Linked DNA regions of Homo sapiens: regions 1, 2, 3 and 5 are each linked to region 4. Evidence: fine-mapped expression QTL. A gene starts in region 4. Each other region holds a variant in brackets. All regions are shown on one strand. Distances are from middle to middle. Region 1 holds the start of CD84-AS1 (CD84 antisense RNA 1). Region 2 overlaps SLAMF6 (SLAM family member 6). Region 3 holds the start of SLAMF6 (SLAM family member 6). Region 4 holds the start of CD84 (CD84 molecule). Region 5 overlaps CD84 (CD84 molecule).

What was found.
Region 1: its variant is fine-mapped to the expression of CD84 in whole blood (TOPMed, PIP 0.96).
Region 2: its variant is fine-mapped to the expression of CD84 in whole blood (TOPMed, PIP 0.96).
Region 3: its variant is fine-mapped to the expression of CD84 in T cells (TOPMed, PIP above 0.99).
Region 5: its variant is fine-mapped to the expression of CD84 in whole blood (TOPMed, PIP above 0.99). The same link has a PIP of 0.9 or more in esophagus muscle.

What each region holds. Positions count from the first base shown.
Region 1 is chr1:160,536,841-160,541,945 of GRCh38, forward strand. CD84 (CD84 molecule) reads right to left here. Exons shown (of 7, transcript NM_003874.4): 7 at 4,258-5,105. It overlaps CD84-AS1 (CD84 antisense RNA 1), which reads left to right and starts at 256. Exons shown (of 2, transcript NR_188634.1): 1 at 256-347. RefSeq lists enhancers at 3,254-3,343, 3,359-3,653. The variant T/C (reference allele first, on the strand shown) is at 2,714.
Region 2 is chr1:160,498,960-160,504,064 of GRCh38, forward strand. All of the region lies in intron 1 of SLAMF6 (SLAM family member 6), which reads right to left. Among named protein-coding and RNA genes, the nearest start is that of SLAMF6, 22 kb to the right of the region's middle. The variant A/G (reference allele first, on the strand shown) is at 3,064.
Region 3 is chr1:160,523,027-160,528,131 of GRCh38, forward strand. SLAMF6 (SLAM family member 6) reads right to left here and starts at 229. Exons shown (of 8, transcript NM_001184714.2): 1 at 118-229. The coding sequence starts at 166. RefSeq lists an enhancer at 14-63. The variant C/T (reference allele first, on the strand shown) is at 2,794.
Region 4 is chr1:160,577,291-160,582,395 of GRCh38, forward strand. It overlaps CD84 (CD84 molecule), which reads right to left and starts at 2,206. Exons shown (of 7, transcript NM_003874.4): 1 at 2,102-2,206. The coding sequence starts at 2,147.
Region 5 is chr1:160,548,982-160,554,086 of GRCh38, forward strand. It overlaps CD84 (CD84 molecule), which reads right to left. Exons shown (of 7, transcript NM_003874.4): 3 at 4,914-5,105; 4 at 4,397-4,516; 5 at 1,957-2,054; 6 at 936-998. All of the region lies in intron 1 of CD84-AS1 (CD84 antisense RNA 1), which reads left to right. Among named protein-coding and RNA genes, the nearest start is that of CD84-AS1, 14 kb to the left of the region's middle. RefSeq lists a silencer at 457-506 and enhancers at 657-896, 1,727-1,956. The variant C/T (reference allele first, on the strand shown) is at 2,078.

The DNA of each region.
Region 1 (5,105 bases), 40 kb before region 4:
GAGCCAGTCATTTGCTTATTTGCTCTCAGCTCTATTCCCACCCTTCTGTGTTCCTTGTTTTTCAGAAGGTTAGAAGTCTGCAAACTACATTTATCATTTCCATTGTCAGATGGCTTCTGATTAGATTTTGTCACTGGGTGGTATTGGTTAAAGTTGGATGGAAGGAATAAATTATATATTTTTCCATAATCTTGGTTTCTGGTAATGTTTTCAGTAGTGGCAGTGATAGCAGAAGATGAGTACCGCTTCAGGGTTCCTGGTGTAGCAGTGCAGTTCCAGCAAGCATGTCAGAAGTCTTGCTAGTGTGGTACTGGTGGGATCAGGCTTTGATGGTGGCATCTGCAGTGGTGAGTTATTTTTGTCTCCCAGAGTCTCACAGTTTTGATGAGACTGTGAACTCTTAGAATCTTGAAAGCTGGCAGCACTGATTCCCAAGACAAATTTCCATAGGGACAAAGTTCCATAGCAACTTCCTGGAATTATTAATTGCTTGGTAACCTCAGCTTCCCTGTTTTACTCCTCCATCACTTTTGGAATCAATTCCCTATATTCAGCTTGTTGAGTTTTCAGTATTTAACATGGTCTCAGTTTTTTAAAATTGGATATTGACTAAAACACATTCTATTTTTAGCTTTCTTGAAAACTTTTTAAATCAGTCATGGGTATTCAGTTTTATCAAATATATATTGTAGACTATGTCAGGATGATTATTTTTTTCATCTCCTTTAATCTGTTTGAACAGCAAATTACAATAGATGGTTTCTTAAAGATAAATCATCCTGGCACTCTAAGGATAAAATCCTACTTGGTCGCATTTTTTTTTCTTTTAATGCATTGCTTTAAAATTGACTGAAGTTTAAGATTTTTAACATTTATATTTATAAGTGAGATTGGACTATATCAGGATGTGGCAGACTTTTTCTGTAAAGGTCCCAGTAGTGAATATTGGACTTTGTGGACCATACAATCTCCTTTGCAACTACTCAACTCTGCTGGTGTAGTATGGAAGCAGCCATAATAAACACATAAAAGAATGCGTGTTGGCTGTGTTTCAATAAAACTTTATTTATGGATGCTGAAATTTGAATTTCACATAATTTTAACATGTCCCAAAATATTATTATTCTTTGAATTCTTTTCAACCATTTTAAAAATGTAAACTATTCTTAGTTCGTGGGTCAAATAAAAACAGATGGCAGACTGGATGTGGCCACACGCCATAGTTTGCTAACTCCTGGCCTATGTATCTCTTTGTGGGGGATCATCCTTATCTGGCTTTGGAATCAGTGTTATATTATAGTATTTAATGAATTTGGAAGCTTCCCACTGTTTTCTATGCCTTGGGACAGTTAAGATGACTGGGAATTATCCTTTCATTGTAGGTGATAGGACTAGCCCTTAAGACCATCTAGGCTGGTACACTTTTGGCAATTAGACCACTGAATATCTTTCCATTTTTTTTCAGGTTAAAGAATTTCTTCTAATTATAAACTAACTTTCTCTCTCTCTTTCTTTCTTTCCTTTCCTTTTCTTTTTTTTTTCTTTCTTTTCTTTCTTTTGAGAAAGAGTCTTGCTCTGTTGCCCAGGCTGGAGTGCAGTGGCACCATCTCAGCTCACTGCAACCTCTGCCTCCCGGGTTCAAGCAATTCTCGTGCCTCAGCCTTCCAAGTAGCTGGGACTACAGGTGTGTGCCACCACACCCGGCTTTTTTTTTTTTTTGTTTTTGTACTTTTAGTAGAGACGGGGTTTCACCATGTTGACCAGGCTGGTCTTGAACTCCTGGCCTCAAGTAATCCACCCACCTCAGCCTCCCAATACAGGCGTGAGCCACTGTGCCAGGGCTTAATTATAAATTTTCAACTTATAAGTTATTACATATACAAAGCCTTATACCACAGCAATCCATTGGTCCTTTCTGCCACCAGATGACATTAGCATGGCCAATATAACCATTATTTGTGTTTTGGAAAGATCACTCTGGTTGTGGTGTAGAGAATGGATTGGACTGGGAGCAGGCACGACTGCAAGAGGTCAAGTGCTATTGTCTGGGTAAGAGATGATGGCAACCTGGACTACTGTAGTTAGTGGTGAAAGAGAGGTAGATAGATTGTAGTGACATTCAGGAGTTGTGTTGGGGTTTTCAAGACCACCCCCAGATTCAGTCATTCAGTAGGAGGACTCACAAGACTCAGCATATAGCCATAGTCATGGCCGATTTATTACAGTGAATAAACACAAAGAAAATCAGCAAAGGCAAAAGGGCAAAGTCCAGAGGAAACCAGGTGCAAGCTTCTAGAGTCCTCTCATAGTGGAGTCAAACAGGATGTATGTAATTCCTTCAACAACATGTTGTGTCATGTTTGAAATGTAATCTACCAAAGAAGCTCGATGGAGCCTAGGCATTTAGGGTTTTTCTCTGCAGGCAGTAACGTAGGCACCCTCTACCTAGCATGCACCAAAATTCCAGAATCCAAGAAAGAAAGCAGATATTCAGCAAAAAACAAATTGTTGTGCCAACAATTTAGGTACAGTGTAAGTACCTTATCAGGGAATTCTTATCAGGGAATGGTAGGAACCGTCCCAAAGTCCAAGTTCTCAGACACCAGCCAAGGGCCAACCTTATAAGCATGCCCTTCAAAGGACAGCAGTTTTAGCCCTGCTGTGTTAACTCTTCTGTGTCTCCTGCATAGCAGGTAAAATCAATATTTTCTAG[T/C]GCATTTCCAACCAAGGGTTTTATAGAATCTATGAAGGTAATATACTTCAGAAATAAACAGTATACCTGGCTTTGTCGTTGATACATATGCCAAAGGATTGTAACATGCCAGCTAACACAGTTAAAGGCTGATAAGCTATTGCGTCTTCAATAATTAAAGTATTACAAATTGAGGACTACTTGCACTGGGTCAGGCACTGTGGATACAAATGGTGACAAAACCACGCATGATCTGTGTCCTGATGGAACTCACAGTCCAGTGACGGAAGAGAGGAATTAATAAAATAATCACAGGGAGAAATATTTAAAGACAAAATTGAAAACTGCTGTAAAGGCAAGAGGTGTTGTACTATGAGCGCAAAACACGGGCATCAGATATGGCCTGGAGGAACAGGGAAAACTTCCCCCCAGGAAGGGACGCTTGAGCTTATCCCAGAAGAATGAATGGGCATTGTGTGAATGAGTGAAGCTGTGTATTGGAGGTAGTGAGGGTAAGGAGGTGGAGGTAATTTCAAGCTGAAAGTCCTATGGCTAATGTGTAGATGAAATGAAATGAAATGTGCCAAACCTCAGAAAGCACTGGAGAAACACTAGCGAAATTTATCTTCTCAAACGGTTGCTGTATCTGCCTACAGAGTTTCTACACAGGGACTCCGAAATTCTACATGGGTAGCAGTCAATTTCAACCCCACAAGAAGATGTAGGTGGGGAGCTGGAAGACCAGGCTTATCTGCAAACGCTGGCTCAGAACAGAGCAGCTGTGGCCTCTGATAAGCAGGGAATAGAGGAAGTGGTTTTGTCTCAGGCCTAAAAACCATTTGCTATCTCACAGCGCCTGTTAGTAAGTCACCTCCCCTTCAGTGTTTACCAAACATTCAGAGGCCCTGCACCTACAGTTCTGTGGAAACCACAACCTCATTCTCCTCAGTTAAAAGCCCAGTCTTTTTATCCCTTTCCTCCAAGTGGCACTATGGGTGACACAGAGAATTTCTACTCTCCAATTTGGGACTCGGACTCTGAATGTGGTTTCCAGGACTCTCTTTCCTCTTCTGATATGTGGGTGCCAATCCAAATTCAGTTCAACAAATACTTACTAAGCTCTGCTAGGCATTGGCTCCTGTGATAGGGCACTGTGAGTGAAAAATGAATAAGACAAAGCTTCTTCCCTGGAGGGAGATGACCCCCAAAACGTGATTTAAGTCCTCAATTTCCTCTCTCTAGGTTGACCAAGGCAGAACTCTCTTCTCCACCTTAACCAAGCACCTCTGCTGCCCTCCGGGTTTTTTCTGTTTCTGGCATTTGTCCTTCCTGTCTCTAGCTTCTCAGTCTCCTCTCAAGGTCCCAATCATCTCTCTACATCAGCTTTTCTTTTTTTCTTTGTCTGTCTTATACCCTCAATCCCTTGGTCTCTTGTGTCCACTCAGGGCCTGGGTTTTCAGACAGCACAGGGCTTTTATCATGTGGACTGTCTCCTTTGCTGTTTCATCTGTTTACTTCATTTTTGTTGCTCTCAAAAACCAAAACAAAGTAAAACACAAAATAGATGCATTATAAAATAATATTTATTGTGTCCTGCTGAAATGGAGCTTGTAGTCTCATTTCTTAGGCACTTACAAGGTAAAATTTATGAACCATACTTTATTAATGGGCATTTACAAATGCCTGAAATAAAAGGTGACTTGTAGAAGGGATAATATATCTTATTGCAAACATGACACCTAGCTTCTGGAATACGGTTAGTGGCATTTGCCACTAGTGAGCATAATTTCCATGTTCAAATGAATAATGAACTAATCAAAAAACCTTTTTTTGAGGAACTGAGGCACTCAGACACAAAACACAAAATTAGGCACTCAGACAAAAAGCAACTTATTAGCCAGTTGGAGAGAGAGCTAAGAAATACCATATCTATATAATTATCAGAGAATGTGATAAAAAGCTACTACTCTGTACTTGTGTGCCAAATGCTGTAAAAGTATAAATAGAGGGCAATATATTTCGCTTTGGACGGGAGGTTTTAGAAGGCCGCACAAGAGGGATATTCAGTCTGATGCTTGATGTAGACAGAAGGGAGAGAAGGGCATCCCAGACAACATGGGCAAAGGCATGGGAGGATTTGGTGGGTGTGTGGGCCCATGATAATTCTGTGTGGCTGGAGCCTTAGGGAGCAGGCAGGAGACAGCCTGGAAGGTCTGATGGGTCAGATTGCTAAGGAGTGTGGTTCCCCAGGAAAAACATTTTAGTGTGGAAGTGAAGTGATAAGATCCTCATTTTAGAAAGATTGCTCTTTATGTAATAGCAACCCAGGTAACACGTGATAAAGCAATGATCTGAGGGAGTGAGCATGTAGAGGGAAGGTGTATTAGAGAATTAGGCCAATTAAGGGCACATG
Region 2 (5,105 bases), 78 kb before region 4:
GACCTTATGTTGGGTACATAGTTTGCAAATATTTTCTCTCATTCTGTAAGATGTCTGTTTACGGTAATGATAGTTTCTTTTGCTGTGCAGAAGCTCTATAGTTTACTTAGGTTCCACTTGTCAATTTTCGTTTTTGTTGCAATTGCTTTTGGGGACCTAGCCAAAAATTCTTTGCCAAGGCCAGTGTCAAGAAGGGTATTTCCTATTTTTTTCTAGGATTTTTATAGCTTGAGGTTTTACATTTAAATATTTGATCCATCTTGAGTTAATTTTCGTATATGGTTAAAGGTAAGGGTCCAGTTTCAATCTTCTGCATATGGCTAGCCAGTTATCCAGCACCATTTATTGAACAGGGAGTCCTTTCCCCATTGCTCGCTTTTGTTGGCCTTGTCAAAAATCAGATGGTTGTAAGGGTGTGGCTTTATTTCTGAGTTTTTTGTTCTCTTCCAGTTGTCTATGTGTCTGTTTGTGTAACGGTACCATGCTGTTTTGGTTACTATAGTCTTATGGTATGGTTCAAAGTCAGATAGTGTGATGTCTCTGGATTTTTTGTTTTTGCTTAGAATTGCTTTGACTATTTGGGCTCTTTTTTTGGTTCCATATGAATTTTAGAATGGTTTTTCTAATTCTGTGAAGAATGACATTGGTAGTTTGATAGGAATAGCACTGAATCTAGAAATTGCTTTGTGTGGTATGGCCATTTTAACGATGTTGATTCTTCCAATCCATGAGCATGGAAAGTTGTCATTTCTGAGGGTTTCTTATTTCTTATAGGAGGAGCTGAATAGGGAAGGAAATGTCTCTTGGAGTCCTAGTGCTCAGCTCCTGGGTGAGCTTGCACTTCCTCTCTCTTTCATGAATTGTCATATGGGTTCCAGGCACATGAACATTGCTGTCATCAACATCTTTCCCATCAGCATTTTAACACACTGTTATTTGTCATCTTTATTCCTCTTTCCTCTGAATCACATGGGTGAATACCACAAGCAACATTTTGAGCAGAATGTCCAGATACCAGAGAATACAAATATATGATTCTATTTATTTAAAGTTGATAAACAGACAAATCTATGCTGTCAGAAGTCAAGAGAGTGGTTACCTTTGAGGAGGGAGAGGTGGTGAATAGGAGGGAGTATAAAGGAAGGATCCTGGAATACTGATAATGTCCTATCTCTAGATCTGTATTTGGCTACACAGATTTGTTCATTTTATGATAATTCATTGAGCTGACATTTAAGATTCGTATAGTTTTTCTCTTTGTATTTCAGTTTAAAAAGTTAAAACAGTAACAAAAGCAGAGCAAAACAAAATCATGTCTATGGTCTATAAGGACCAAAATGATCTGGCCATTTCTCTTTCTTTGACCTAATTCCTATATTCTCCCCCTTGTTCACTTTGCTCCAGCCCCCTTGGCTATTCCTTGAGCAGGCCAGGGCTTTTGCATTTGCAATCCTTTCTGTCTGGAATGTACTTTCTCCAAGTATCCATGCAGCTCACTCTTTTGCCTCCATAAAGTCATTAATGCAAACATTCCTGCTCAGAGAATTTAAAGAAGTGTGACCACTCTTTTTGCACCATCAGCCCCCATCCACCCTTGCACATCCAGCTGCCTTTGGATTTACCATCTAGTACTTACCATCTAGTATACTTTATAATTTAAATATTTGTTTTTGTTTATTTTCTCACCTCTCCACTAGAATGTAATCTCCATGGAGACAAAGATTTTTGTCTGTTTTGTCTACTATTGTGAACATTCTTGAACAGCACCTGGCACATAGTAAGCATCCCATGAATATTTACTGAGTGAATGGACATATCTCCATCCCTTCTCTTGGAGGTTTTCTGTCTAGAATGTTAAAGCTCAGTTCCTTTTGGTAGGGAGTCTGGGCTTACTCAGTGGCCTAAGGACTCACCAGGAGCTGTTCTTCCCTTGCCTGGAACGCTTGTTTAAGTTCCATTGATTTTATAGATTGAAATAATTAGTTTATGTAACAAGATTTTATCTATGGCTATTTATGCTGCTTACAAGAAGAAAGTCAAGGCTAAGGCAGAGTGGTAGCCTGTCTAGGCATTAAAGGAGTGCCCCAAAACAGAGCCAATCTGCAAAGACAAGCACAGAAATTTATTTATTTGTTTGTTTGTTTATTCATTCTGGTGTTCAAATATTCTAATATTTGCTAACTTCCATGCTAATTCAATTAGTAAAACCTTAGGAACCATGGCATATTTATTAGGTCTGTTTTATGTACCAGTTTCTAGACTGGAAACTGGGAATATAAGATACTGTCAGTCCTCTGGGTCCATCATCTGATAGAGGAGCCTGACAGGTAAATGAGTAGTTAGTTCTGATGTGGTGGGTTGGGCATTGAGCTAGTGTAAGGCTTGCCTCTGCATTGCCCTCGTATCACTATTGCAGTTATACATGCAATTGCAAGCAGTTCTTTCTCTTTGTTATAATTACAAGATTATTTTCTTTTCTTTTCCATAATCTTGAGGTCAGGGATTCTGATTATTATTTCTATATTCCTAGAACTTAGCACACAATTTCTAGCTCAATAAATGTTGAATTGTTAGAGATATGTGCTCCATGGGAGCAAAAATTTAGAGAATCATGAACTGGGAAGAGTTGGGAGTTGTCAGGGAACAGTTCACAGGAGATGACACTGTAGCAAAGTCTTGAATAAAAGCTATGAGTTCTCCATTACTTAATTATTTGTAATTCTTCCAATAATGCCTTGCTTTTTTTTTTTTTTTGCACTGCTTTTCCCTCTGCTTAAAATGCCTTTCTTCATCTTTCCTACATGGTAAGCTCCTATTTATCCTTCAAGGATGAGCTAAAATATCTGTTTGCCTCTTATATTTATGGGGGTTTTGCATTGGTACATGGGGAAGGGGAGAAAGGAGTTTGTGGTGAAGCAAAGGGAGAAGGAGCACAGGATGGATGAGATGGTAGGAATAGTTCCCCACAGACCCAAAACCAAACCAAAGCAAAACTAGATTTGAGACAATATGCTTAGGGACAGTGAAGGTCAGATGCTACTGAAAATGTTTAAAAGACCCTGC[A/G]TGAGACTTTGGACAGGAGCAGAGCTGCTTCAGGGCCAAGGTGTTGTGGTGTGGCCCAGAGGGCACATGGAGGTCCTTTTCTCTGCTCTGCCAGGAATCAACACTGATGCTTTGGGAGCATCCGGGACCAGCACCCTTGGCATGGACATTGATGTTCTTGGAATAAGCAGGGCATCTAAATGGCTCTGCTGGCATCCTGTGTGGGGGACTAGAACCAGAAAAGGAGATTAAGAATGGGAAAGATGCCTCATGTTGGCTACAACTCGTAGGCTGCTTTGGGGACTCATGGGAAGCTTTCCTTTGAGACTCTCATAAGTCACTGGGGAACTCCTTGCAACATGAAGGTGATGCTGAGGTCTTGCCCATCCACTGGTGAGGATGTCAAGACAGCAGACATTTGGGGTACATTTGTTTACAAGTTTCATCTACTGTATGATGTGTTTTGGGGAACTCAAATAATATCTTAGTCAGCATTGTATTTCCCCATAACCTGGTCCAGGGAACTCAGTGAATGTTAAGTAGATTGGAATTAGAATAGAGAAGTTTTTAAGGGTTACCTGATTAGTGGAGGGTTAGTTTGGAAGGTATTAAAAAACATGAAGTATTTTTGAAAATTGGCAAAGTATAAAGAGAGCAGTGTCTTAGGAAAGAGAGGAGAGAGGTAGAACTAAGCAGATTCTGAAAAAGAGAGAAAAGTCAAGGAACTTTGGGTTTCTAACCTGAGGGACTAGCTTAGGCCCATCTATAGCTAACAGGAATATAGCAAGCTGTGTTAGCTCCACAGGAGGCAAATGCAGTATGAAAGAGAGTAGGGGCTGATTTCTCAAGAGAATTTAAAGAGAAGGGAGGAGAAACATAGTCAGGATATTGAGAAGGTAGGACAAATGGAAGTTACTCTTTAGGTAACAGAGTCCTGAGCAAATTTGGAGCAAAGGGAAGCAGCTGGGAGAAAAAGAAAAAACTTAAGATATGGTGAAAGGGAGTATTCAAAACGGTGTCATTTCTGAGGAGGAAGCCAGGGTGGGCTTAGGAGCATAAGTGAAGAGGTTAGTCTTGGGTAGACGTGGTTCTCCTTTTCTTTTGAGACTGAAAAGAATAAGGTTAAAGATCTCAAAAGATTTAGAGGGTAAAGGGGAAGAAGTTGGAATATTTCGCTTATGTTTTTCTCAAAGTTGTTCTAAGAGAAGTAGATCTCATAGAATCTAGAGGAAGACGGATGAGACATGTAAAAGCTGCTATGAGGAATTTGTTAGGAAACTGACAAGTCATCAATAAATGAGTGTGGAAGCAGTGAGGAGGAATTGGCCAAGCTTGGTTGACACGCACCATTCATGGAGTCCATCCAGTTTTGCATTGGCTGGTGCGAAAGTGATTGCGGATTTTGCCATTACCTTCAATGGGAAAATCCGCAATCACTTTTGCACCACACTAATAACTTTCTCCAATGATTATAGCACTTGTAGCCCAGGAACAGGGAAAGAAGGTGCTGGGGATCACCTAATATTAGCAATAGGCATAGTATAGGTAGGTGTGGCATCAAAGGGGAGAGGGATTTCAGGGGAATGGTGACTACTTTGTTGAAATTGCTGGCCTAAAGTCTGAGGGTCAGTGACATTAGTCAAAATGGCACAATAAATAACTGCAAGGGTCCATCCCTCCACAAAAAACATGCACACTCATGCGAACACACACAGAGTGAGCAAACATTGTCAGAATCAACTTTGTCAGAACTGTAGAAACTAGTCAAAGGTTTATAGCAACCAAACAAATGATGGGTCAAAAAAAGAGGCAACTTAAAAATGCTAGGAGTTCTAGTCTGGCCAACATGGTGAAACCCTGTCTCTACTGAAAATACAAAAATATCAGCCAGGCAGAGTGGAACATGCCTGTAGTCCCAGCTGGGGAGGATTGTTTAAACCTGGGAGGCAGAGGTTGCAGTGAGCTGAGATCATGCCATTGCACTCCAGCCTGGGTGACAGAGTGAGACTCTATCTCAAAAAAAAAAAAAAAAAGCAAAAGAAAAAAAGGAGTTAAAAAAAGCC
Region 3 (5,105 bases), 54 kb before region 4:
CCCGCCCCAATCCCTTGGCAGAGAGCCAGACAACTGTATACAGACGATTTAGGTTGAGCAAGCTGCACAAAACCAGGGAGTCACTCAGTGACTACACCGATCTGGATTGACATTTACCTGGGCCAAAGCAGAAGACAAACAGGAGCGATTGGAACAGCCACAACATGCTTTCCGCGGTGAAGACTGGTGCTTGAGACCTTGAGGCAGTCAATGTTTTTGCCCTTCTGTCATAAACTGAAAATACTTCTGAGACTTCCCCTTCCTCTTAGAGGCGTGGTGACAACTTCTTCCCCTGCACTAAAAATCCTAATTTGTAACTGTGTTAATTTTTTGTTTACTTTTTTCTGAGCTAAGTGCACAAATTTTTTTTTTTTTTGGAAAAGAAGATAAAGTCCTTTATTGCATCTTTCATAAACTTATATGTAAAAGTCTGTAAGGAATTTCCTAAAATCTACTAGAACAAATAAATGAGTTCAGCAAGGTGAAAAGATACAAAATCAAAATATAAAATTCAATTGCAATTGTATATACTAGCTATGAGTAATCCAAAAATAAAATTCAAAAAACAATTCCACTCTAATTACATTAGAAAAAAATATTTAAGTATAAAGCTAAGAAAAAGCCAAAAGAAAACTGATTTTTTAAAATTATACTTTAAGTTCTAGGGTACATGTGCACAATGTGCAGGTTTGTTACATATGTATACATATGCCATGTTGGTGTGCTGCACCTATTAACTTGTCATCTACATTAGATATTTCTCCTAATGCTATCCCTCCCCTTGCCCCCCACCCCGTGACATACCCCAGTGTATGATGTTCCCCTACCTGTGTCCATGTGTTCTCATTGTTCAGTTCCCACCTATGAGTGAGAACATGCGTTGTTTGGCTTTCTGTTCTTGTGTTAGTTTGCTGAGAATGATGGTTTCCAGCTTCATCCATGTCCCTGCAAAGGACATGAACTCATCCTTTTTTATGGCTGCATGGTATTCCATGGTATATATATGCCACATTTTCTTTATCCAGTGTATCATTGATGGGCATTTGGGTTGGTTCCAAGTCTTTGCTATTGTGAACAGTGCTGCAATAAACATAAGTGTGCATGTGTCTTTATAGCAGCATGATTTATAATCCTTTGGGTATATAACCAGTAATGGGATTGCTGGGTCAAATGGTATTTCTAGTTCTAGATCCTTGAGGAATCGCCACACTGTATTCCACAATGGTTGAACTAGTTTACACTCCCACCAACAGTGTGAAAACATTCCCATTTCTCTACATCCTCTCCAGCATCTGTTGTTTCCTGATTTTTTAATGATTGCCATTCTAACTGGCATGAGATGGTATCTCATTGTAGTTTTGATTTGCATTTCTCTAATGACCAGTGATGATGAGCTTTTTTCATATGTTTCTTGGCCGCATAAATGTCTTCTTTTGAGAAGTGTCTTCATATCCTTTGCCCACTTTTTGTTGGGGTTTTTTTTTTTTTCTTGTAAATTTGTTTGAGTTCTTTGTAGATTCTGGATATTAGCCTTTTGTCAAATGGATAGACTGCAAAAATTTTCTCCCATTCTGTAGGTTCCCTGTTCACTCTGATGATAGTTTCTTTTGCTGTGCAGAAGCTCTTTAGTTTAATTAGGTCCCATTTGTCAATTTTGGCTTTTGTTGCCATTGATTTTGATGTTTTAGTATTGAAGTCTTTGCCCATGCCTTTGTCCTGAATGGTATTGCCTAGGTTTTCTTCTGGGGTTTTTGTGGTTTTAGGTCTAACATTTAAGTCTTTAATCCATCTTGAGTTAATTTTTGTGTAAGGTATAAGGAAGGGAACCAGTTTCAGTTTTCTGCATAATTGCTAGCCAGTTTTCCCAACACCATTTATTAAATAGGGAATCCTTTCCCCATTGCTTGTTTTTGTTAGGTTTGTCAAAGATCAGATGGTTGTAGATGTGTGATGTTATTTCTGAGGCCTCTGTTCTGCTCCATTGGTCTATATATCTGTTTTGGTACCAGTACCATGCTGTTTTGGTTACTGCAGCCTTGTAGTATAGTTTGAAGTCAGTTAGCGTGCTGCCTCCAGCTTTGTTCTTTTGGCTTACAATTGTCTTGGCTATATGGGCTCGTTTTTGGTTCTGTATGAAATTTAAAGTAGTTTTTTCTAATTCTGTGAAGAAAGTCAATAGTAGTTTGATGGAAATAGCATTGAACCTATAAATTACTTTGGGCAATATGGCCATTTTCATGATATTGATTCTTCCTATCTATGAGCATGGAATGGTTTTCCATTTGTTTGTGTACTTTCTTATTTCCTTGAGCAGTGGTTTGTAGTTCTCCTTGAAGAGGTCCTTCACATCCCTTGTAAGTTGTATTCCTAGGTATTATATTCTCTTTGTAGCAATTGTGAATGGCAGTTCACTCACGACTTGGCTCTCTGTTTGTCTATTTTTGGTGTATAGGAATGCTTGTGATTTTTGCACATTGATTTTGTATCCTGAGACTGCTGAAGCTGCTTATCAGCTTAAGGAGATTTTGGGCTAAGACAATGGAGTTTTCTAAATATACAATCATGTCATCTGCAAACAGAGACTATTTGATTTCCTCTCTTCTTATCTGAATACCCTTTACTTCTTTCTCTTGCCTGATTGCCCTGGTCAGAACTTTCAATATTATGTTGAATAGGAGTGGTGAGAGAGGGCATCCTTGTGCTAGTTTTCAAAGGGAATGCTTCCAGATTTTGCCCATTCAGTATGATAATGGCTGTGGGTTTGTCATAAATAGCTCTCATTATTTTGAGATA[C/T]GTTCCATCAGTACCTAGTTTATTAAGAGTTTTTAACATGAAGGGATGTTGAATTTTATCAAAGGCCTTTTCTACATCTATTGAGATAATCATGTGGTTTTTGTCATTGGTTCTGTTTATGTGATGAATTACATTTATTGATTTGCATATGTTGAACCAACCTTGCATACCAGGGATGAAGCCAACTTGATTGTGGTGGATAAGCTTTTTTTTTTTTTTTTTTTGAGGTGGAGTCTTGCTCTGTCGCCCAGGCCAGAGTGCAGTGGAACAATCTTGGCTCACTGCAAGTTCCGCCTCCTGGGTTCATGCCATTCTCCTGCCTCAGCCTCCTGAGTAGCTGGGACTGCAGGTGCCCACTACCACGCCCAGCTAATTTTTCTGTATTTTTAGTACAGACAGAGTTTCACTGTGTTAGCCAGGATGGTCTCGATCTCCTGACCTCATGATCCACCCACCTCAGCCTCCCAAAGTGCTGGGATTACAGGCACGAGCCACCATGCCCGGCTGGTGGATAAGCTTTTTGATATGCTGCTGGATTCAGTTTGCCTGTATTTTATTGAGGATTTTTACATCAATGTTCATCAGGGATATTGGCCTAAAATTTTCTTTTTTTGTTGTGTCTCTGCCAGGTTTTGGTATCAGGATGATGCTGGCCTCATAAAATGAGTTAGGGAGGAGTCCCTCTTTTTTTATTGTTTGGAATAGTTTCAGAAGGAATGGCACCAGCTCCTCTTTGTATCTCTGGTAGAATTCGGCTGTGAATCCATCTAGTCCTGGGCTTTTTTTGGTTGGTAGGTTATTAATTACTGCCTCAAATTCAGAACTTTTTATTGGTCTATTTAGGGATTTGATTTCCTTCTGGTTTAATCTTGGGAGGGTGTATGTGTCCAGGAATTTATCCATTTCTTCTAGATTTTCTAGTATTTGTGTAGAGGTGTTTGTAGTATTCTCTGACGGTAGATTGTATTTCTGTGGGATCAGTGGCAATGTCCCCTTTATCATTTTTTATTGTGTCTATTTGATTCTTCTCTTTTCTTCATTAGTCTGACTAGCTATCTATTTTGTTGATCTTTGCAAAAAACAGCTCTTGGATTCATTGATTTTTGAAGGGTATTTAGTGTCTCTATCTCCTTCAGTTCTGCTCTGATTTTAATTATTTCTTGTCTTCTGTTAGCTTTTGAATTTGTTTGCTCTTGCTTCTCTAGTTCTTTTAAGTGTGATGTCAGATGTGAATTTTAGATTTCTCTTGCTTTCCCTTGTGAGCATTTAGTGCTATGTTTCCCACTACATACTGCTTTGGCTGTGTCCCAGAGATTCTGGTACATTGTGTCTTTGTTCTCATTGGCCTTAAAGAACTTATTTATATCTGCCTTAATTTTTTTATTTACCCAGTAGTCATTCAGGGCAGATTGTTCAGTTTCCATGTAGTTTTGTGGTTTTGAGTGAGTTTCTTAATCCTGAGTTCTAATTTGATTGTACTGCGGTCTGAGAGACAGTTTGTTATGATTTCCATTCTTTTGCATTTGCTGAGGAGTGTTTTACTTCTAATTATGTGGTCAGTTTTAGAATAAATGTGATGTGGTGCTGAGAAGAATGTGTCTTCTGTCAATTTGGGGTGGAGAGTTCTGTAGATGTCTATTAGGTCCTCTTGTTCCAGAGCTGAGTTCAAGTCCTGGATATCCTTGTTAATTTTCTGTCTCATTGATCTGTCTAATATTGACAGTGGGGTGTTAAAGTCTCCCATTATTATTGTGTGGGAGTCTAAGTCTCTTTGTAGGTCTCTAAGAACTTGCTTTATAAATCTGGGTCCTTTGTATTGGGCACATATCTATTTAGGATAGTTAGCTCTTTTTGTTGCATTGATCCCTTTACCATTATGTGATGCTTTTCTTTGTCCTTTTTTATCTTTGTTGTTTTAAAGTCTGTTTTATCAGAGACTAGGATTGCAATCCCTGCTTTTTTTTTCTTTTCATTTGCTTGGTAAATATTGCTCCAGCCCTTTATTCTGAGCCTATGTGTGTCTTTGCCCATGAGATGGGTCTCCTGGATACAGCACACTGATGGGTCTTGACTCTTTATCCAATTTGCTAGCCTGTGTCTTCTGATTGGGGCATTTAGCTCATTTACATTTAAGGTTAATATTGTTATGTGTGAATTTGATCCTGTCATTATGATGCTAGCTGGTTATTTTGCCCGTTAGTTGATGCAGTTTCTTCATAGTGTCGATGGTCTTTACAATTTGGTATGTTTTTGCAGTGGGTGGTACCGGTTGTTCTTTTCCATGTTTAGTGGTTCCTACAGGAACTCTTGTA
Region 4 (5,105 bases):
CTCCTAAGCCCAATACTGAATGTAAGGGACTACCTCTACCAGGAACAGCAGCAGGAGGAATTCATGGTATATTTTTGTGCTCAGAAAAGGTTTGCAGAATAATCCTTAAGAGGCAAACAGATAATTCAGTAAAGGTGGACAGTATGTAAAAAGTACTCCTGGCTTCACTTTTATAAAAACAAGCTCCCATTCCCCTTTCATGGATCCTTGATGAAATGAATATCTCACTCCTAGTTTCCTTTTCCAGAACCCAGACAACCAACACCTAAGCTCAAACTCCCACCACCTTTTCTCCTGTTTATGTTCCTTGGACAATTCCCTGACAGAGGAGTCCTGCCCAGGATCTCTGTGTGGTAAAGCCATGGCTCTTCCTAATAATGAATGAAAAGCGAGTGTGAAAAATAGTAGCATTAGCTGATATCTGTTAAACACTTACTATATTCAGGTACCATGGCAAGTGTTGTACATGCATTATCATCATTTTGATTCTCAAAACAATTCTACTGTATTAATACCTCCCCATTTTGAAGCTGAAACAAGAGTCAGAGGAGGAATGTAACTTCGTCTAGGTCACAAAACTTGTAAACAATTCACTACTAGCTGATTTGACAACTTTATTTCAGTTTCAGTAGATGAAAGAAGTGTATCCTAGAGCTACCTTTTATCTTAGCAGGTATTAACCTTTTGAAGAGCATCAAAAATTTGAAAGCAATGAGTGAAGAGGTCAGGTGGAGCAGAAAGAAGAACCAATGGGATTGGGATTAACCTTGGAATTAGAAAAACCAATGTCTATTTCCAGCTCTACCAATTTAGGTAGTGAAATTTCAGGTGAATTTTTAAACCCCTAAATCTTAATTTATTATTTTTCTTGCATAATGGGATTAATAACGTCTATCTTGCTCATCTCAATGGTTTTCATATGGATGACATAAGAATGTAGGCATAAACATTGTAGAATGTTTTGCAAATTAAGTGGTATCAAATGCTACCTTGTCTGGTCTCTCTCTGGAAGATTAGGGACATCCCTAGTACCATTCCTCATCTACTTGCATTTTCTGTCTGCCATTCTAGAGCGACCAGCAGAGGCTCCAAAAATTTGGTCTGACTAGTGGTTACAATCTCCATGAAGTTCAAATTAAAGGAGCCATAGCTTGAAATGGCCAAAGAAACCAGAGAGATCACAGTGCATTGATTCTACCTTTACAGAAAATCCAAACGTACTAGGTTCCCAGGGTTCTAACTCATGCCAGAATTCTGCTAGTGCATTTTCAGAACTGGCAAGAGATACTAGAAGTAGATCTAGAAGTTCCAAACATAGTAAATTTCTGTTAGAGCAATTGTTTGTATTTAAGGAGATAACATGTACAATGACACAGCACTCCCAGATCTATGTTAATGTTACAATTTTCTTTGTACAAATAACAATCAATATTCATGTCGTTCTTTTAGTTTACTGTTATGCCATAAGTAAGAAAAATAGGGTTTTTAATTCAAGTTCTCCAACTCTTTTTTGAGACTATTTGTAAAAAATGGGATAGTAATCTCTTCCTCATTTATTTTAGAGTTTGTTGAGGATAAAAGCAGAGTAATAGCTCTGTGTTTTGAAAATAAAGGGAGTTTATAGAGATGAGGCTCAACAATGATAACGATGAGTCATCCATCACTCTAACCTGATAGAACAATCAACTATAATTAGGAAAGACATTTTTCTCTCTCAAACGCCATCACAATTGAATGCCAAGAAGAAATTGCTTGTAAGTCATTCAAGCTTTTAGAAGATCTTTCTTTTGCCAGGCTTTTTGGGTGGGTTTACCAAGTGCTGATTCCTCTGAGAAGGATTTGCCTCAGACCTTTGGAAACTGAGATCTCCAGATCTCAGAAATATAACTCAGTAATATAAACTTTAAAGCTGAACCTAAACACTTAGGTTTGAATTTTAAGTCTCTCCCCAGCCAGTTGGATCCTGTTGAGTACAGTAGATACTGAGACCCAGGGTGTTCTGCTAAACACAGATCAAAAAGACAGTTCAATGTCTTCCTTAAGGGCAATTTTTAAAACTTTATGGAAAACTAGGAGGCGATCAGCAAGGGTCAGAACTCACAGGTTTGCAGGCAAAGGAGCAAGATCCATAGGTGGTGCTGAGCCATCTCTTTCAGGGTCTAACCTTCTGTGGAAAAGCACGGCACTGTTCTAGCAGAGTCAGTTTCACTTGAGTTTTCTTCCTCCTTTTTATAACGACATTTAAGAAAGGAAGTGCATGTTAACTGATTTAGTTAACATTGGTCTTTGTATTACTGTGCTAGTTTTTTCCAATTTAAAGTGCCTAGCATTAATTATTTATTCAACACATATTTATTGTGTGCCTACTATGTGCCAGGCCCTCTTCTGGGTGCTGGCAATATACAGAGCAACAAAACAATTGATCACCCTCCTTTCATGGCATTTATACTCTTTTTTGGAGTAATCAACAACTCTATAAGCAGTTCCAATTTAATGTAGTAAGCATTGCAATAGGAAAAATACAGGGAACTATGAGAGGAATAGGGGCATCTAACTCAGGCTAAGAAAAGTTGGAGTAGGCTTCCTAAAGAAACTGACAACCAACCTGAGACAGGCTCAAAGAATGAATTACCATTATTAGGCGAATGGCGGTGGGGGATATGAAAGAGGAAAAATGTTTTGACATATGGTAGGAGCTTAAAAAAACATAGCAATTAAAATTACATAATTATAGTTATATAAAATGATCACAAGTACATGATTATGTATTATAATGTATAATCAACATGTGATATTATTTAACATAATCAATATTAAGTATTATATTAATAATATATAATTATATTTATATATGATACAATAATATATAATTATATAATATATTAATATATAATATAGTATAACTACATACATATAATTATGTATAATTCCATGATATCATCATGAAACATTATGATTATGATCACACCTTATTAGGGACACAAAAAGTGTTTGATAAAAATGAAGTCAAAAGGGATTTTTAGACTATTGAATCTATTTTGCAGATGGAGAAACTGGCTCAGAAGGAGAGGAAGTGACTTTTCCCTATATCACACAGTGAATTAGGGAACTGAGTTAAAAGCCAGCAGTGTCACTTGGCAAAGACTGTGACTCCTGGGCATGAGAGACAGCAGGTGCAGAGGCAGGCTTAGGTGGAGTTGAGCTAGATGTAACAGGACTATTTCTTGTAGAGGGTCTTCATCTTGGTTAACAAGAATAAGAGTGATTGTGTAATGTGTGTATGGGAGATGTTGTCTGGGAATGGGGATAGAAATGAATATTTAAGTTTGACTCAGCTGTTTTGGGGAGTAATGAGAAGGCTGGGGACACTACCCCTGAGACCTGGAGGAGCTTTTTTTTAACTGAGACGAGTCCTCATGCTAGCTAGCTCATTCCTAGGTAACCTGGCCTCTAGAGTCACACATTAAATAATCCTGCTGATCATTTCCCATATATACTTACATAATACTGAATATAGTTGACCCTTGAACAATGCAGGGGTTTGGAGTGCTGTCCCCTCAACCAGTCGAAAATCCATGCATAACTTTTGACACCCCTAAACTCAACTACTAATAGCCTACTGTTGACAGGAAGCCTTACCAACAACACAGTTGATTAACACATATTCTATGTGTCATATACATTGTTTACCATATTCTTGCAGGAAAGTAAGCTAGAGAAAATAAAATGGTATTAAGAAAATCATGATGAAGACAAAATATATTTACTGTTCATTAAGTGGAATTAGATCATCATAAAGGTCTTTATCCTCATCATCTTCATGTTAAGTAGGCTAAGGAGGAGGAGGATAAGGAGGAGTTGGTCTTGCTGTCTCAGGGGTCCCTGGGGAAGAAGAGATAGAGGAGGTTGAAGGGAAGGTGGAAGAGACAGGCACAGTCGGTGTAACTTTTCAGAAGTATATTTAATTTTTGTCTGACTTTTTTGCTTGTTCATTTCTCTAAAAATATTTCTATATGGTACCCCTTCTTACTTCTACCATTTGTTTTAGTTTTAGTGCCTGTATCATACCATAGATGGGCCCATATCATAAAAGAAGTCAAAAGCGGTCCCGAATAGTCAGAAGCCTTCTGTCAGACTGTCTAATGTCAGCTTGTTTTCTGGCACTGCTGCTTCTATGTTTTCTTCCGCATTGTTTGATCCTGGCTTAGATGCATTCTTCTCCATCAAGTCATCTTCCATTAATTCCTCTGGTGTGGTGTCTATTAGCTCTTGAATTTTGCCAAGATTTATTTCTTGAAACCTTTTACCCCAACTTTTTTTTTTGCCATATCCACAATATCTTTCATAATTTCCTTGATTAGCTCTGTCATAAATCCTGTGAAGTCACGCACAACATTTGGACACAGTTTCCTCAAGCAGAGTTTATTGTCTCAGGCTTAATGGCTTTCACCACTTTTTCTGCAACAATGATAGCATCTTTAATGGTGTAATCTTTCTAGACTTTCATGATGGCCCTCTCCTGGGGTTGTCTTCCTAGGCATTGACAATTCTTTCCATAGAGTACGTATATAATGAGCCTTAAAGGTCCTTATGACCCCCTGTTCTAGAGGCTGAATTAGAAACATGTCTGGGGAGAAGTATACCATTTCAGTGCCTTTGCTGTTGAACTCCTGGGGCTCTGGGTGGCCAGGGGCACTGTCCAATATCAAAATAACTTTAAAACGCAGTCCCTTACTGGCAAGGTATTTCCTGACTTCAATGACAGGGTATTGATGAAACCAATGCAGGAAAAATGTTCTTGTTGTTCAGGCCTTCTTGTGGTACAATTAAAACACTGGCTGCTGGTGTTTATCTTTTCCCTTCAAGGCTCAAGGGTTAGCAGACTTATAGATAAGGGCAGTTGTGATCATAAACTCAACTGCATTTGCACAAAACAGTAGAGTTATTGATTTCTCTCAGTTCCTGTATATTTTTGTTTATGGTGATATGTAATTTACTGGAGAGATGAATTTCTTATGTGGAAATGGTATTACAAGATTTTTTTTAATACTGTGTATTTTATTTTACGTTTATGTAACTTAATTTTTTTATTATTCTACTTTAAG
Region 5 (5,105 bases), 28 kb before region 4:
CTTGCCTGTCCTCCTTTTCTTCTCCTCTTCTTTCCTCATTCCTCCCCTTCTTTTTCTTTCCCTCCTTCCCTCTCCTGATCACTAAGAAAGTAAATGTCCCTCTATCTGGTTGTCCAGTCCATTTGGCTTATCTTTTCAAGCAAACTGCCCTGTGCTTCAAGTCCTCCTTAAAAGGAAGTAGCACTGCCCTGCTTGTCGAGCTCATAGATGTCCTCCCTATTGCCTTATAGGATCACTCTCAATTCGTACTCAGTTTAGCTTCCTGCTTGGTAACTCAGCTATTAAACAGGAATACTTAGAAAACATGATTCTTTAAGCAACCCTAAAGCTGTCCTGATTGTAGCAGCAGTGAGGACCTTCAGATAGTGACAATCCCTCCTTAGATCCCCAAAATTTAAAGTCCTGTCAGAGGGCTTTGCATATGACAGAGAAGGACATAAGGCACAGGCATAAGGCACAAGGCACTTGGCACTACAAATGGTTGTGCAGGCTGCGTGTGGTAAAAGAGCAGCTGAGGGAGCAAATGAACTGAAATTCAGCTTCTGCTCCATTGCACCCATCTGGGCATCTGGCATGGGCCTGTGTTTGCTCAGAGGGAAGCACCTGTTTTCTCATTTTCACACTGTGAGCTAGCAGTGACCCCAGGTATTATACGGGATGGAGTTCCCATACCGTAGTTCAGAGGCATAGGGACTTCTGCATTTGAAGGGTGGGATCAGCATCCCAAGTAAGATAACTCGTGGATGGCCATTGACCTAGGGAGTGGGGCTTTGTGCATGGGTGGAAGTACATATAGACCAAAAACCTAGGCAGTGGGTCCTGAGAACTACAAGGAGTCCCAGGGGAACCAGCTAGCCCCTGGTTGGATGGACCGGGTGCACCAGAATGGCTGGAAGAGTTAGGAAAGCAAGGATAAAAAGCCAGAAAGGGGTTACCTTATCAGCAAACTGCACTTCGGAATAAACTGTGTTCACTGGCTCTTCCTTGGAGGGAAGCACCTGTAAAACACACATCTTCCCCTCAGTGAGGGAGCCCAGGCCCATCTACAAGTCCCCTTTCCTAATTCTGCCTCTACCCACCATCCTTCCCTGGTCCCACATTTACTGGGTGGCCTCCCCTTTGGCCTCAGTTCTGCCTCCATCCAACTCTGGAGAGGCTTAGGATCAGGAAGGGATAAGGTGGGGGTGAATGGGTAGCAGTTGGGCAGGGTCTCGGGGGTGAAAAACCTCAGGGGCCAAGAGGAGGGATCCCATGGTTCAGGATGAGTCCTGCTCAGTCAGGATTTTAGCTTTCCATGGGCTCTATGGATCCAGCTGCCCTATCAGTCCAAGCACAGCGCTAGACTGACCAGGCAGACCTCAGTCTCCCCCTTGATTCCTTGCAGACTTTAAGGAGGCAGGCTGGTGGGGACACAGGAGAGGGCGATCCAGGGTGGAGGGGAGGGAGGGGCAGGCAGGTAAAGGGCGGATGGGAGGAGGGGTGTGGAACAGTGACTCTGAGTCTGAGGAAAGCAAGCCGCTGCTGCTAGACCAGGAGGGGCATTCAAGGGAACTTGTCTGTCAGTTCTGTTGCCTCGTAGCCCCCTTAGCAACCTGTTCACCACGTTGGTAGTCACATAGCAGCCCTCACCTCACTCCAGTAGCTCCTCTGTTGTGTGGCCCCTCTAGGGGGCGCCTTGCTCCTAGTCATGGCTCATCTAACCTGGAGCCGGGCCCACTGTGGGACACTCAGTGCCTCAGCCCATGGAGGCTGCCATGGGGTGACAATGGGTCACGTTCCTGTCCTCATAGAAAGATCCGTGGCATCACTTCCCTGACATGGTATTTCCTGGTTGGAACCTCTGGACTCTTGGCCGTGGCTGCTTTCTAGACAACAACAAGCAGAGGCAATGGCTGCCCATGACTCCCTGTCATGGAGATGGTGGCACAGGGGTGTCCATGAATTGCATCAGCTCACCTTGGACTGCAGGATTTCATCATAGATTCTGGACTCTGCTGGCTGGGTGTTCCTTGAAGCCATGATATATGTGTATATGGTTTTCTTTGAGGCAGCATCTGTCTCACAAATAAATATAGAC[C/T]CACAGTCTGTGAAAGGTGGTTTTTTTAGCAATGATCTATTCCAATGTTCTCTTTTTAAGATGAAGAAAGGAAGCCCCCAGGGATTAAATGGCTGCCATCCTTTGAAATGGATGCTTGGATCCTCAGAATGTCTCAGGAGTCACTTGGCTGAGGCCTCACCCACAGGTCAATGGGAATTCTCTTCTACTCTAGAGTCCAGATTAGGCCAAAGACAATTTCCCCAACCCCTCCCTGTGTGGCCAGTCAAATGTAGCTCTTCTACCCAGGATCTCCCTTCATGTTTCTGACACTTACCACTGACTGTCTTGCATGGCTAGTTGACTTTCCATGTCACGGTCTTAGTTTTTTAACTTGATTGATTCTTTCTAGTTATATACTATTTTACATTCTTTTGGTGCAGACCTTGCTGTAACCATCTCAATGTTAAGCCCATAGTAGATGTTTCATGAACATTTATTGCTTGTTTGATTGATTCACAGTCTGTTTTTGTTTGTTTTTGAGACAAGTTCTCACTCTGTCACCCACGTTGGAGTGCAGTGGTGCACCAACTCATGGCTCACTGCAACCTCTATCTTCTGGACTCAAGTGATCCTCCCACCTCAGCCTTCTGAGTAGCTGGGACCACAGGTATGTGCCACCACACCCAGCAAATTTTTTGTATTTTTGGTAGAGACAGGGTTTCACCATGTTGCCCAGGTTGGTCTTGAACTCCTGAGCTCAGCTGATCCACATGCCTTGATCTCCCAAAGCGCTGGGATTACAGGCATGAGCCACAGCACCCTGCCAGTTCACACAGTTAATAAACATTTATTAAGCACCTTCTATGTGCCAGGCTCTGTGTGAGGCCCCAGAGAAGAAAAGACAGTAGACAAGTCTTTCCTTTTAAGAATGTATAGGCTAGAAGAGACATTCACGTCAGTGTACTCCTTTGCTTTGGTACTAACACAGAACATTTTAGGGTCAAGGTGAAAAAAGAAGGCCAGAATTTTGGGCCTTCATAATCCAGGGCACCAACATACCTACAAATAACAGGTCTGAGCTGAGCAGTATTACAGGGCTCCAACATTCAGAGTTTAGTCCTATCACTTATTTGGTGAGTATGAGACAAACTGAGTGCTCTCTCTTGTCTCATTTATAGATGCAAAGAATAGCCCTTTCTCTTCCCAAGAGTCAGCGAGGGATTGAAGACAATATCTCTTTGAGGGACCTTGCAGATCACCTGTGGTTCAAGCAGGCTATGCCTTCTCCCCATTGTGAGGCCATTTGAGTATGGCACACGTCACAAATCCCCTCCCCCCTAGAATGCCTCCTCCGTACCATGCCCCAGGCCAATCAGTTATCAGTATACTAGCTAACATTTATCAAGTACTTACTATGTACTGGGAATTGGGCCAAGTATTTTGTATTTCTAATTCCATTTAATCTACTTAATAAGTATATACAGCACACCTTATTACTGTGAATATTTTACAACTGAGAAAATGGAAGCTTACAATGATAAAAAAACTGGTAGCTGATAAATGGTCAAGCTGGGACTTTCACGCCTAGACTGACTGCAAATCACGTGCTTAGTCTTAACCACTCTGTTGGGAACTCCCCATCCCTCCCAATTGTTATTCAAGGAACTTTGTGGCTGAGAACTTACAAGGGTTCTTAGTGAAGGTGTTCAAGCAGGAACCTGAGGAATCAGACCCAAAGGAGAGTCAGGAACATGGAAGCAGAAGTTCCATGTTTTTTATTGTGATTGGTGGGAAAAGGAAGTTCTTGGGTGGACATGGGATGTGGGTGAATCGGAGGGTATAATGATTCCTTGAGGGTCTAAGATCAGGTTTTCTGAATGGAGAATGGCACAACTACAGAATGATCCAGAGGGATTCAGAGGGACATAGTGACAACCATGGAGTACAGGATTAGTATATGTTTCTCAATGACTCTCCAATAGTCATAATCAAAATACAATGAAATTGGAAGTGACCCTGGAGATCCTCTAGTCCAAACATTTCACATGTGAGGGCCCTGAGCTGGAAAGGTGAACACACTCGTACAGTGAAGCACAGCTTGTTCATGTATGTACTAAGCTCGAACCCATGTTCTGGGCCCACCAGCTACTGGTGATCTCAGGAATGGATTCTGAAGACCATTCAGGGTAATGTCATACCATCCTCAGAGCCATCATTCTGGGAGGTGGTGGGGTGGAGATCGGAAAAAGGCAGATTCCCTGGAACAATGGGCCTTTCAGCTAAACCTTGGATAAATGGCTTCAGTCCCAGGAGGAGAGAAGGTGAGTTTCCACATTTTACCTTCTGGGAAAATCCTACCTTGTCTTCTCTTGAACAAACGGAACAAAAACACTGAAGACAGAATGAGAACAAGCAGAAAGAACATAGCCAGCACGCTCAGCAACCCGGTGTGGTGAGTACGGAAGCCCATTGCGATGTCTGGAAATAGAAGATGCAGTGAGTCTTGATTCTCAGGAAATAGGCCCAAGAGGCTGGGCAGGTTTGCCCACAGTCAGGGGCATTATGAAAATTGGGTGCCCTCCGAAGGAGTGCCAAAGCTCCTAGGGAAACTAAACTTTCTGCTATTAAAAGCCAGGATGAGAAATTGAATCAGAGAGTTGATCAGGGGCTGCCACAGAACACCCAGAAATGTCTAGCATCTCTCAGAAGGCTTTGGCCTCTTTCCCAGTAGGCTTCTTGGGAGGTGATGCCCTCAGTGACCAGGCCAAAGATAAAGGAAGCACATCTCCCTAGAGAATGTGGCCCACGTTCAGACCTTGCAGCTCCTCAGAGTGATCTCTGAGACTCACCAGGAGAGATGGGCAGAGCTGGTTACCTGCACAGAGCTGCCGGGCAGAGATGGAGTCAGAATTGTTGCTGACAGGGTTCTGGGCTGTACACGTGTAAGTCAGCTCTTGGTCCTCAGGAGTCTGGAAGATTTGAAGGACATTACCCTCTTCTCCCAGGGGACTCCAATTGTATGTCACATTCTTTTCTTCTTTCTCTACAGAGCATGTCAGTGTGACAT